Linked DNA regions of Homo sapiens. The protein of the gene in region 1 purifies or fractionates together with the protein of each later gene. This does not show direct contact. Each region holds a gene or a part of one and is shown in the gene's direction. Other genes may lie near its edges.

Region 1 (3,654 bases):
GCCAAGGCAGGAGAATTGCATGAACCCAGGAGGCGAAGGTTGCAGTGAGCCGAGATTGCGCCACTGCACTCCAGCCTGGCGACAGAGCAAGACTCCGTCTCAAAAAAAAAATTAGCCAAGTGTGTTGGTGCACACCTATGGTTCCAGCTACTCATGAGGCTGAAGTAGGTAGATCACTTGAGTTCAGGAGGTCAAGGTTGCATGAACCATCGTTCTGCTACTGCACTCCAGCCTGGTGACAAAGCAAGATACTGTTTCAAAAAATAAATTAATTAATTAAAAAGAAAAGGAAAAAAAAAAAACCCAGCTGGTGTTGGGTTGTCTTGCATAGCATTCAGTTCATTCATGTTCAAACAGGGCATGAAGCCTACACTTTGCATGGTAATGATAAAAAGGTATATCTGGCCAGGCGCAGTGACTCACTTCTGTAATCCCAGCACTTTGGGAGGCCAAGGGGGGGTGGATCACGAGGTCAGAAGTTCGAGAACAGCCTGGCCAGCATGGCAAAACCCTGTCTCTACTAGAAATACAAAATTAGCTGGGCGTGGTGGCGTATGCCTCTCTAATCCCGGCTACTTGGGAGGCTGAGGCAGGAGAATCGCTTGAACCCGGGAGGAAGAGATTGCAGTGAGCCGAGATCGTGCCGCTGCACTCTAGCCTGGGTGACAGAGCAAGACTCCATCTCAGGGAAAAAAAAAAAAAAGTACATCCAATACCTATTAATACACATAAATAAATAATCATTTAGAAACAACTATTTAGTAACGTACTACTCATTTTTTACAGATGTCATATGGTAGAGAGATTCAGTGAAAGTAAAGACAGTAGTCAGTGTGGAGAAACATTTAGCCTCATTCGAGATAGTATTGTGAACAACAGCATTTGTCCTGGAGAAGATCCATGTCAAAGCGCTGAGTGTGAAGAAGTCATAATGGGTCATTTATCCCTTAATAGCCACATCAGAGTTGATTCTGGACACAAACCACATGAGTATCAGGAATATGGAGAGAAGCCACATACACATAAACAACGTGGGAAAGCCTTCAGTTACCATCACTCCTTTCAGTCGCGTGGAAGGCCTCACACTGGAAAGAAACGCTATGAGTGTAAGGAATGTGGAAAAACCTTCAGTTCTCGTAGAAACCTTCGAAGACACATGGTAGTGCAAGGTGGAAATAGACCTTATAAATGTAAGTTGTGTGGGAAAGCTTTTTTTTGGCCCAGTTTATTACGTATGCATGAAAGAACTCACACTGGAGAGAAACCGTATGAATGTAAGCAGTGTTCTAAAGCCTTTCCTTTTTACAGTTCCTATCGAAGACATGAGAGAATGCACACTGGGGAGAAACCGTATGAATGTAAGCAGTGTTCTAAAGCCTTGCCTGATTCCAGTTCCTATATAAGACATGAAAGAACTCACACTGGAGAGAAACCATATACATGTAAACAGTGTGGGAAAGCCTTCAGTGTTTCCAGTTCCCTTCGAAGACATGAAACCACTCACAGTGCAGAGAAACCCTATGAGTGTAAGCAATGCGGGAAAACATTTCATCATCTTGGAAGCTTTCAGATACACATGAAAAGGCACACTGGAGATCGACCTCATAAATGTAAGATATGTGGGAAAGGCTTTGATCGTCCCAGTTTAGTTCGATATCATGAACGAATTCACACTGGAGAGAAACCCTATGAATGCAAGCAGTGTGGGAAAACGTTATCTCATAGCTCAAGCTTTCGAAGACACATGATAATGCACACTGGAGGTGGACCTCATAAATGCAAGATATGTGGGAAAGCTTTTGTTTATCCTAGTGTATGTCAAAGACACGAAAAGTCTCACAGTGGAGAGAAACCCTATGAATGCAAGCAGTGTGGGAAAGCGTTATCTCATAGCTCAAGCTTTCGAAGACATATGGTAATGCATACGGGAGATGGGCCGAATAAATGCAAGGTATGTGGGAAAGCCTTTGTTTATCCCAGTGTATGTCAAAGACATGAAAAGACTCACTGGAGAGAAACAATATGAATGTAAACTATTATAAAGCCTTCTATATTTCCAGTTCCCTTTGATATCATGAATAAACTTACACTGGACAGAAACCCTATAAATGTAAATGTGGGAAAGCCTTTCATAATTTTTATTCCTTTCAAAATCATGAAATATCTCACACTGGAGAGATGCTGTATGATATAAGGAATGTGGGAAAGTGATCGATTTTTTTTTAACACCATTGTCAACATAAAACAACTCACAGAGCAGAAAAACTCTGTGAGTGTAAAATATGTAGGGAAGCCTTCAGTCATTTTGGTAACTTAAAAGTACATGAGGCTGGGCACAGTGGCTCACGCCTGTAATCCCAGCACTTAGGGTGGGCAAATTGCTTGACCTCAGGAATTTGAGGCCTGCCTGGGCAAAATGGTGAAACCATGTCTCTACAAAAAATAGAAAAAGTAGCAGGTGTGGTGGTATGCCCCTGTAGTCCCAGCTACTTGGGAGGCTGAGGTGGGAAGATCTCTTGAGCCCAAGGGGTGGGGGTTGCAGTGAGCCAAGATGCACTGCACCCCAGCCTGGGCGACAGAGCCAGACCCTGTCTCAAAAAAAAAAAAAAAGTACATGAAAGGATTCACTCTGGAGAGAAGTCATATGAATGTAAGAAATGTAGAAAAGCATTGAGTTCTCTCAGGTCCTTGCATAGACATAAAAGGACTCACTGGAGAGATACTCTATAAATGTGTGAAATGTAGGGAAGTATTCTTTAATGTTATTTCATTTCAGATAGAAATAATTCTCATTGGAGATAAACCCTATGAATGTAAACACATAGTAAAGCCTTAATTTTAAGCCTCAGTTTCTTTCAAATACAGTTATCCCCTAATATTTGCAGGAGCGTGGTTCTACCACCCCCTGGGCATACATAAATCGACACATGCCAAGTCCTTTTTTAAAAATGACATATTTGGTACAAAATTACCCGGATGTGATGGCACATGCCTGTAATCCCAGCTACTCAGGAGGCTGAGGCAGGATAATCACTTGAATCCGGGAGGCGGAGGTTGCGGTGAGCCAAGATCGCGCCACTGCACTCCAGCCTGGGCAGCAAGAGCAAAACAACCTCTGTCACACACACAAAAAAAAAAAAAAAGGAAAGAAAGAAAAGACATATTTGGGTTAGACACAGTTGCTCACCTCTGTAATCCTAGCACCTTAGGAGCCCAAGACAGGTGGATCACTTGAGCCCAGGAGTTAGAGGCCAGCCTGGGTAATGTGGCAAAACCCTGTCTCTACAGAAGATACACAAATTAGCCAGGTGTGGTGACATGTACCTGTAGTCCCAGCTACTAGGGAAGCTGAGGTGGGAGGATCGCTTGAGCCTGGGAGGTTGAGGTTGCGGTGAGTCAAAATCACATCACTGCATTCTAGCATGGGCAACAGAATGAGACCCTGTCTCAAAAAAATAATAACAATAAAAAATATTTGCATGTAACCTACCCACATCCTCCTGTATACTCTAAATCATCTGTAGATTAGTTAAAATACATCATGCATCATAGAAGCTATGTAAATAGTTGTTATTATATTGTTTAGTGAATCATGATATGAGAAAGACCCTACACATATTCAGTACAGACCCACCCACATAATACATGTCACCT
Region 2 (3,825 bases), on another chromosome or scaffold:
AAGTGGTGCTTTAAATTTTCAACAGCTTCCACTTATTATTATTATTATTACAGTGCTATTCAGAAAGACTTAACATGCACCTGAGTTATATACTGTAAAACTCTTACTGGGTCTTTGAGGGCTAAGTGGGCTGTTTTAATGATAGGAAAATGTGCCTGAAAGGCAGTGGATTTCACTTTGCTTTTAAACTTTCAGGCATTATGACATTCTTGAAGACCGAGTTCCATCAGGACTTATTGTTGACTACCACAATCTGTTGTCTCAATGTGAGGAGAGTTACAGGAAATTTTTAAATCTGAGAAGCAGTTTGTCAAATTGTAACTCTGATTCCGAGCAGGAAAATATCTCCATGGTGGAAGGGTTAAAATTGTATTCGGAGATGGAACAGTTGAAACAAAAGCTGAAACTCATTGAGAATCCTTTGTTGAGGTATGTGTGTCTTTGTAATTCTTAGTTAGTCAGCATCTTTTCTTACTTGCTGTCTTACTGATAGGCCTGTTTCGTTTCTTTAAGGTATGTGTTTGGTTATCAGAAGAATTCTAACATCCAAGCAAAGGGTGTCCGTTCCAGCGGTCAGAAGATCACTCATGTGGTCTCCTCCACCATGATGGCTGGTCTCCTGCGGTCCCTGCTTACGGACAGGCTTTGCCAGGAGCCTGGTGAGGAAGAAAGAGAAATTCAGGTAAACGGAGAGTTTCTCACTCCAGGTGGCTTTTTTTCCTTCTGATTCACCACAGGTTTTCACAAATCCCACAAAGTATTTACAGGAGCTTTCCCAAGACGGTTTTCTGTGCATGGGAAGTAGTGAGAGCCCTGCCTTTCATCAGCAGTAGTCACTTACCAGGCATGTGTTAGGTCAGTGCGCTATCAAAGGAGATGCTTCAATATGCAGTTTTTGGCTTCCATTTTCAAAGTAAGACATGAAGTCACCTAGAGTAATACTCAAATTACTTTTTTGGGAGTGTATATTTACAAATGTGTTCTTATTGTTTTCTAGTTCCATAGTGATCCATTGTCTGCTATAAATGCCTGCTTCGAAGGTGACACTGTTATTGTTTGTCCTGGCCATTATGTGGTACATGGCACTTTCTCCATTGCTGACTCCATTGAGTTGGAAGGTGAGTATGGAAGACACACAACCAAACTCTCACACGTGATATGTTTAAGTAAACAATAAATCACCAATCTTGTTGAAACTCCAAGAATGTGATTTGAACCCATTTGATTTCTAGTGAGCTGCCTTGAAACATTAAGGACATGGAAAGCTGAAAAGAGGTTGACCCAGTGTTTCAGCAATTTGAGTTGTGGTTCTTTGTAGCAGTGTGTATGTTGGGGAGATGTTCACAGGCTCATATAGAAAAAAGACCATTAGGAAGAAGCATACTTTCCAGATTGTAGGTGGTTTATGGAAAGGAAATCTAATTTCTAGAATTAAAAAAAAATTCCTAGCAATATTTTTAAAAATTTTAGTATTTTAAAAATTTGTTGCTTGCTCTTATCTCATAGATGTTGCAGATATGTTAGTGCATGGCTTTTTGTTTTTTGTTTCACACTTAGCTTATTTTCGTGAGAGGTATAATGAAGGGCATTTAACTTGAAATTGGTACCAATTATCTTAATTCTCTAAATGCTTGCCGAATGTCACAAATGCTACACTTTGTGTCTTGACCAAAGTATACTTTAGAAAAGATTAATGTTGAAAGATTCTATTAAAAATAACTTTTTGGGCTGGGTGTGGTGGCTTACGCCTGTAATCCCAGCACTTTGGGAGGCCGAGGTGGGCAGATCACTTGAGGCCAGGAGTTTGAGACCAGTCTGGCTAACATGGTGAAACCCCGTCGGTACTAAAAATACAAAAATTAGCCGGGCATGTTGTTGCACGCCTGTAATCCCAGCTACTTGGGAGGCTGAGGCAGAACAATCGCTTGAACCTGGGAGGTGGAGGTTGCAATGAGCCAAGATCATACTACTATGCTTCAGCCTGGGTGACAGAGCAAGACTCTGTCTAAAAAAAATAACTTTTTCACAGTTATAATCTTATTGTTCATTTAGAGTGATTTCTAAATTTAGGTTACTTTACAATTGTTCATCTTGGTCCTGTATATTTTCATAACATGTCAAATTTAGTTACACCTGTTCAACTATTTATCAAAATAGCTTCAAGTTAGCAGTGAAGCTTGTAATGCAAAAAATCATATATCATTTTGGGACTTGTGCAGCTGTTCAGAAACTGCTTAAGCTATGCTCTTTATCTTGTCAGTACTTCTAAATGGAACTGAAGCTGGAAGTTTAGTTTTCTCCTGTTCCTAGTACATCATCTCACCCCCTTTTTTATTTTATGTGTGTAATTTTTGTTCTTTTCTACTCTCCAATTTTTGATGTATAATAGATGTGTGTATATAAATAACACATCTGCAAGATAAATCACTGTGATAAAAACACTTTATTTTTTGGCATAGTGGAAATAACACTGATATTATAGTTTGTATGGTAGATAAGAGTTCTTCCTAGATTGGTGAGGAAATTTTAATGTAATTGCCAGAGTGTCATAAATGGACATATAGAATGCTGATAGTTAAGTATAAAAATGGCTGTATATTGACTAACAGTATGGGTCTGAGAATTGGGGAATCACAAGGTATCTCTAGTGTGCATATATGGAGTGTTCATGAGTAAGATTCAAGCTCATCTGATAGTGATCTATAGCTAACCAATATAACAAGAGATATATATTGAGTACCTACTATGTGCAGGGTGTCAATAGTACTTACAATAGGGTTTTTCTTTCTTGTTTTGAAAATCCATTCATTTAGGTAATGGTTTTATGTTTTAAGTGGAAAGAAATACATAATTATATAAAAATTTGTGTAAAAATCTTTTCTCAATATGCAATTCTTTTTGTACTTTTAATTTTTCTGATGATAAAAAGCAATGGTTATTGTAGAAAATATGCCAAGTACAGTCAGATACATACAACAATCAGAAACAAAATCACTCATAATTCAGGCATCCAGAGTCCACCCCTGGTAGCATTCCAGTGTGTGGAGTCCCCTTGCATTCTCTAGGGCCCCCAAAGCCTTGTTTGTCCTCTTCCAGTGTAGATACATTGAGCGGCTTTGCTTGTTAAAAACAGTTACTGCTTTCATTTACTCAAAGATTCGTCTTTAGTCAATGAGAGTTATTTCTTACAGCTTTGTCTATGTGGTTCTGTTTTATAATGGAAGTCAAGCGAATTCTTTAGTTTTCTGATACTCTAGTTTTTTGTAAGCCCACTCAGGTGTTTGGCTTGCATTAATGGTTTGAGTAAGATTTATACAGATCTGATGGTTTTTTTGTTTTTGTTTTTTTGAGGTGGAGTCTTGCTCTGTCGCCCAGGCTGGAGTGCAGTGGTGTGATCTCAGTTCACTGCAGCCTCTGTCTCCTGGGTTCAAGCGATTCTCCTGGCTCAGCCTCCTGAGTTGCTGGGATTACTGGTGCCTGCCACCATGCCTGGCTAATTTTTGTAGTTTTAGTAGAGACAGGGTTTCTCCATGTTGGCCAGGCTGGTCTCGAACTCCTGACCTCAAGTGATCCACCTGCCCTGGCCTCCCAAAGTGCTAGGATTATAGGCGTGAGCCACTGCACCTCACTGAGATCTGATGCTTTTTTTTTGAGACAGAGTCACTGTCACCCAGGCTGGAGTGCAGTGGCACGATCTCCTCTCACTGCAATCTCCGCCTCCCAGGTTCAAGCAATTCTCCCACCTCGGCCTCCTGAGAAGCTGGGATTACAGGCACATGCCACACTCGGCTAATTTTTATATTTTTAGTAGAGGCAGGATTTCTG

The links.
Region 2: the proteins of ZNF563 (region 1) and SHCBP1 purify together in Homo sapiens (affinity purification with mass spectrometry; 2 studies listed by BioGRID and IntAct, with this or other methods). This does not show direct contact.

Annotation. Positions count from the first base shown.
Region 1 is NC_000019.10:12,316,966-12,320,619, reverse strand, and holds the end of ZNF563 (zinc finger protein 563), read left to right. Parts: intron 1-786; coding exon 787-2,026; 3' UTR 2,027-3,143; downstream 3,144-3,654. UniProt on the Homo sapiens protein: May be involved in transcriptional regulation.
Region 2 is NC_000016.10:46,600,832-46,604,656, reverse strand, and holds part of SHCBP1 (SHC SH2 domain-binding protein 1), read left to right. Parts: intron 1-195; coding exon 196-429; intron 430-513; coding exon 514-682; intron 683-997; coding exon 998-1,118; intron 1,119-3,825. UniProt on the Homo sapiens protein: May play a role in signaling pathways governing cellular proliferation, cell growth and differentiation. May be a component of a novel signaling pathway downstream of Shc. Acts as a positive regulator of FGF signaling in neural progenitor cells.